2 linked regions of the Homo sapiens genome follow. The protein of the gene in region 2 interacts with the protein of the main gene of each other region in a pairwise test. Each region holds a gene or a part of one and is shown on either strand. Other genes may lie near its edges.

The links.
Region 1: the proteins of ITGB2 (region 2) and UPK1B interact in binary tests that used the Homo sapiens proteins (3 or more experiments, as listed by UniProt).

Annotation. Positions count from the first base shown.
Region 1 is NC_000003.12:119,183,372-119,187,197, forward strand, and holds part of UPK1B (uroplakin-1b), read left to right. Parts: intron 1-3,342; 5' UTR 3,343-3,370; coding exon 3,371-3,439; intron 3,440-3,826. UniProt on the Homo sapiens protein: Component of the asymmetric unit membrane (AUM); a highly specialized biomembrane elaborated by terminally differentiated urothelial cells.
Region 2 is NC_000021.9:44,885,189-44,887,738, forward strand, and holds the end of ITGB2 (integrin beta-2 isoform 1 precursor), read right to left. Parts: intron 1,715-2,550; coding exon 1,548-1,714; intron 1,243-1,547; coding exon 1,180-1,242; 3' UTR 765-1,179; downstream 1-764.

The sequences.
Region 1 (3,826 bases), on a different chromosome or scaffold from region 2:
CTGACTCAGCCTCCCAAGTAGCTGGGATTACAGGCACCCGCCACCATGCTCGGCTAATTTTTGTATTTTTAGTAGAGACGGGGTTTTGCCATGTTGGCCAGGCTGGTCTCGAACTCCTCACCTCAGGTGATCTGCCCACCTCAGCCTCCCAAAGTGCTGGGATTACAGGCGTGAACCACCATGCCCGGCCCCTTTTCTTTATACAAACAATGGCAAGACAACAGCTTCTCCCCCTAGATCCTTCAGAAGCAACATAGCCCTGATTTTAGCCTGGTGAGACTCATTTTAGACCTCTGCCCTCCAGAACTGTAAGATACATTTCTGTTATTTTAAGCCACGAAGTTCGTGGTAATTTGTTTCAGCAGCAATAGGAAATGCAGACCTGAAAAACCCATCTCTCAGGTCTGTTGAGAAGATGAATATCAAATGCCTAACATAGTGCCCAGAGCATTGTAAGTGCCCAATAAATGGCAGTTTTCATCACTATTTCCTTATCTTGGAAGACAGGAGTAGCTAAATTATCATGTGCCATTGATACCAAAGGCCTAAGGGAGAAGAAGAGAATGCATAGTGAAAAAGGAGAACATTTTAGTGGCCAGAAAATTCAGAATATCTTGCCCACTGACATATCACCACCTTCCAATAACCAACCCACAGCTGGGCTGCCTCCCTGGCATTTCTGTCATGTCCTTGCCTAGGTTTCTTCAATTTATGCTTTTCTTTTTGCTCAGAGCAAGTTTCTACCTTCCTTCTTTTCTCCCACTTTTATCTGCGTTTTCCACCCTAATTGTGACTCCTGCAATTCTCCCATAGAATATTCATTTGCTCTTTCCCCTTTGTCTAAACTCTGTGTGGCAGAGTCATCTCTGGAAAAGTCTGTACGTCACGGGGCATAATTGGGTCACCCAGGCCACCTCCCTTGATCGGGGCCCCTGCAGTTCCTTTCTGGACCAATAAAGCCCCTCAGCGGTGCCTCTGTCTTTCTCCACAGCCCTCCTTGTCCCCTTGATGTGCACGGTCATTTTTCCTTTGAACCCACGCTGTAATTGCACTTTAAACTCCTTGAGGCCAGGCGCAGTGGCTCACGCCTGTAATCCCAGCACTTTAGGAGGCCAAGGCAGGAAGATCACAAGGTCAGGAGTTCGAGACCAGCCTGGCCAATATGGTGGAACCCCATCTCTACTAAAAATACAAAAAAAAAAAAAAAAGCCAGGTGTGGCGGTGGGCACCTGTAGTCCCAGCTACTAGGGAGGCTGAGGCAGGACAATAGCTTGAACCTGAGAGGCGGAGGTTGCAGTGAGCCAAGATCGTGCCACTGCACTGCAGCCTGGGCAACAGAGCAAGACTCTGTCTCAAAAAATAATAATAATAATAAAAATAAACTTCTTGAAAGAAGAAATTGTCTTATTTCACACAGTACATAATCAGTACGAGTTGATATCGGTGCTGAATTTGGCCTCTACTGATTTCTGCCCTTTCCTCTCTATGCTTCTGTTATCTGAACTCCTACGTTTCACAGTCTATTTACTTTTGTCTCTAGTTTAGATACTAACCCAACTGGTCAGGAATAATGTCTGTACATACCAGTAATGAACTTTACAATGTGACTCAACCAGCTACATGAGTAAGTTTCCCCCTTGGGGGAGTTTGTGCAGTCTAACACGCAACAATAACTGGAAAGAATGAATGAAATTTCTAAGCAGAAAGAAATGAATGGCATTTCTAAGCAGAAACTACACAGAGACGCAATGGCCCAGATTCTTCCATTTCTCCAGCAAACATGAATTGAGTACCCACTGTGTGCCAAATTCTGAGCTAAAAGTGCTCATAAATTTTAACTGAACTTGTCACAGCTACCCAGGTAAACAGATAAAGGAAAACATTTAGAGATGTCTAAACTTACTTGGAAGGTTGTTAATACTTACAGTGTAACAATGAGGTTAAAATTTAGCAAGGCTTGAGACAAATAGAAGGTTTGCCTCCCACTGCTACCCTACAAAACTAGGACTTTGACCAAATTGACTGGTTTGCTATCTTGTGGGCACCTTGCTCTTCTGTCTCTACTCCCTAACTTTTCCTTTCTCTTTACCTGGAATGTCACCCACCCCCACCTCACTCCCACACATATCCACCTCTACTCTACATATCAAACCATACACATCCTGCAAGACTTACGTCTTCCCGCCTCAGGACTCTCACAATATTTCATCTCACTACATGTAGTATAATTGTGTGGGAATGCATCTTAGTTTCCCTACTAACGCAAAAAATCCTAGAATACAATAATCTCCCTTACATATCTTTGTATGCCTCAGAATGCATATTGAACCATTTAATACATTTTTTATTTACAGCAGGAATGCATGAATTGATTAATTAAATGTTGAGAGCTGTAGATGGCTTTTCTCAAGGTGCTTCAAGTGCAGAAGCCCAAGTGATTGACCCACACACTTACCTTTGTGTTCCTTCCAGAAAATCCTCAGGGAGGTGAGAGACCCATGTTCAGCTGTGTATGGCACCAAAGTCTATACATAGTTTCTGGGAGTCACTGTGGGCTGTGGGGAAGCACGTGGACTCTGGAGTCACACACACCAAGGTCTCTAGCCTAGCTCTGCCACTTACTGGTTGTGTGACCCCAGGGAACTTAATTTACAAATTTAAGCTTTAGTTTCCTCATCTGCAAAATGGAGCCTCCTCGCCTTTCTTCTTTTGCTACCGAACTGGGTTATGAGAATTAGATGCGTGCATGCAAAGCACCTGGTAGAGTGGCACACACCTGGCAGAAGGAAGTAAATTCTAGTCCCCGTTTTCACTTACCCTCATATACAACGGGGCACTTTTTTATTTGCCAACTATTTCTTTGAAGATAATAAAAGAGTCAGAAAATGATAGTTTTTAAAAGCACCCTGCAGTCCACATGGGAACCAACCACTACCTCTGGCCATGAGTTTACCCTTTGGGTTTCCATTTGTCATGGCCAAGGGCAGTGAGGGCTATGCCAGGGACCCTCAGTGTGTTTGGCCCTACCCAATCACCATCTCAGGTCTACCCCTTGTGCATTCCACCTTGCGGGGCTCAGTCCACCACTCAGAAGGATGCATTCTGCACACTCCTTGCCTGAAAGAACTCCTGAAAGGCACTGACCAGGCTCTGGAAGGCTATATTCTTTTCATTCTTTATAAAAGTTATGTGATTACCAAGCTCAATAATCAAATGTCCTTCATCGCTAAAAGATTATATGGCTTTGGTTTGGATGCTTTGGGAACAAGGAGGCAATACGCAATGGCTTGGTTTACTCATGTTACAGAAACTGTAGCAGTTATTTGGTAATGCTTTCAACAGTGCCTTCAGCTTGTGGGAAATCCCGAAGATGGCCAAAGACAACTCAACTGTTCGTTGCTTCCAGGGCCTGCTGATTTTTGGAAATGTGATTATTGGTGTAAGTAATGATTATTTTCCAGGAAATTCTGCACTTCCTGTAATCATAATTCTAGATGAATCAAAAGTAAGAGTTTAAAGGAAAATAATGCTGTGATTACTGGCTTCCTATATTTTTGCTTCATTTTAAGAAATGTGTTAGTAAATATGCTAGCTAGAATTTAACTGTATGTCAAAAGATCATGGTTGAAAAAGTAGATATTTTCCTCCCAACTTTAAAATATAAGTATCTAAAAGGAGTCATGTCAACCATAGTCAGTGTCTAAACACTCTGACTACGAACACACTTCACTATTTCTTTTCTATGTCACCTTGGTTTGATTTCCATGGGACTCTGCTGTTAAGGTTTTTTGGGACAGATGCTTGCATCTTGTTCTTCTCATACAGA
Region 2 (2,550 bases):
GCTGGAGAAGAGGTGTAGACGGCTGGAGGGGAGGTGTAGAATGCTGGAGGGGAGGTGCAGACGGCTGGAGAGGAGGTGTATACGGCTGGAGGGGAGGTGTAGACTGCTGGAGGGGAGGTGTAGATGGCTGGAGAGGAGGTGTAGACGGCTGGAGGGGAGGTGTAGACTGCTGGAGGGGAGGTGCAGACGGCTGGAGAAGAGGTGTAGACAGCTGGAGGGGAGGTGTAGACTGCTGGAGGGGAGGTGTAGATGGCTGGAGAAGAGGTGTAGATGGCTGGAGGGGAGGTGTAGACTGCTGGAGGGGAGGTGTAGACGGCTGGAGAAGAGGTGTAGACGGCTGGAGGGGAGGTGTAGACTGCTGGAGGGGAGGTGTAGATGGCTGGAGGGGAGGTGTAGATGGCTGGAGGGGAGGTGTAGAGCTGGAGAGGAGGTGTAGATGGCTGGAGGGGAGGTGTAGATGGCTGGAGGGAGGGCAGACAGGTACCCGCTTTCCTGCTTTGCCTCTGCCCTGGCCAGGCTCCGCCGCAGGCACCTCTTTGGTGGGGCCACCACCGTTTACGGAAATGCACCTAGGATTTGGGACAGGGCCTCAGAGCGGGGCTCTGTATAGACCAGCAGGTGAGGAAGGAAAAGGGAAAACAGAACCTGCCCCATGGTCTGAAGCCAGCTGTGTGCCTGTGTGGCAAAGGTCAGCGGGCAGGACAGGGCCCACGTGTGCCTGGCCACCTTGCCAGTCGGGGGAATACAGCGGACACAGTGCCCAGTTTCCATGGACAGCCTGTATTGAAGTTTTATTTTTTTTCTATACACGTGATTGATTAACAATATAATTAATGGGATGTCATTTTATACCCTGACAAGTTTAAATGTAAATAAATTGGCACCACCTTTAATCAGACTGATGTCCTGACTTGCACAGGAAACACGCACCTAACCTCACCAACCTCAAGCCCTCCCTCCTCAAGTCTCCATGCAAAGACTGTGCCAGTCAGAGTGGAGCTGTCCCCCCGACGAGCCCCCAGAAGCACCCGGCCGGCCATGGCTGTCATTTTGAGGGCGGAAAATAACTGGATTTCTGGTTAATTGGTGACATCCTCAAGAGCTGTGGCAAGCCATGTCTCGGCCGCGTGATGGGGCAGACATGGTGGGTCCTGACGGCCTTGTCTTCACCAAGTGCTCCTAACTCTCAGCAAACTTGGGGTTCATGACCGTCGTGGTGGCGCTCTTGAAAAGGGGATTATCCTGGTGGGAAATGCAAACAGGGGCTTGTGAGTGTGGGAGGTTTTCAGAGCAGAATCTTTCTCCCTGAGGACACTCCCCGCATGGAAGCCGTCACTTTGAGGAAGAGCTAGACGTGGGGCAGCCCCCCCAGGGTCCCAGCACCGGCAGCCAAGCTCACCCACAGCGGCGGACGCCCAGAGGACAAGCTGCCTGGGGAGGCCGGGGTGCAGCCACACACGGGTGTCCACGGCCTCCCGCAGCAGGAGGTCGCATAGTGTGGGACGCACGTGCCCCTCTGCGTGGGACCCCCAAGGACGGCCACTTACATTGTTCCACTGGGACTTGAGCTTCTCCTTCTCAAAGCGCCTGTACTCCCGGAGGTCGCTCAGGTGGATCAGAGCCTTCCAGATGACCAGCAGGAGAATGCCGATCAGCACGATGCCTGCCACGGTGCCCCCGACGATGGCGGCGATGTTGGGGCCTGCCACACACTCTAGGGAAGAAGCAGCACACCTGAGCGTCAGTCCAGCCCCATCTCACTGAGCCGTGTGCCCACAGGTCCGAGGTCACCCCACAACACAGCACTTAGAGAGACGGAGGTTCCCAGGGCCCCGGCTCACCATCCATCACCATGGCCAGGGGTCAGTGAGAACCTGGCCCAGCCCCTGCTGGATTCCAGGCCAGGCCCTGTGGTTCCAAATGAAACCTAAGGGCCATTGCCACCACCCCTGCTGACAGAGAAGAAGGCAGGGCCAGGGTACCGGGCAGCCAGGACAGAGTGCTAATACTGGGGGGTAGGACACAGTGCGAGGGACCCCGCTCTCCTACAGCAGAGTTCAGAACCAGGCTCAGGGTCCCTGCTGGAGTTCACTCCCCATACTGTGAAAGTGATTTGTGGTCGTCAAGGACAAGACCAGAGACCAGAGCTCAGCAGGTGAGGCCGGTGCCAGGATGAGCAACGCAAGGTCCTGGTTCCCACGGCAGCTGTGCCCACCTCCTGAGCATGGGGACTGTGGGCCATAGTGGGCCAGGCCCACAGCTGCTGACCCTGGGACAGACACTAGCGTTCAGTGCAGTCCCTGGCCTGGTCTGGCATCCTCACTCCCTGTACCCCTCCTGCCATCCTGACCTGCACCCTCACTCCCTGTGGTTGCTCCTGCCATCCTGATCTGCACCCTCACTCCCTGTGCCCCCTCCTGCCATCCTGACCTGCACTCTCACTCCCCGTGCCCCCTCCTGCCATCCTGCCTTTCCTGGGGGACCTGCCTTCCTTCACCTGTCCTCAAAGGTGAAGTGACTTGGCCAGGATTGCACAAACCAGACGTGACC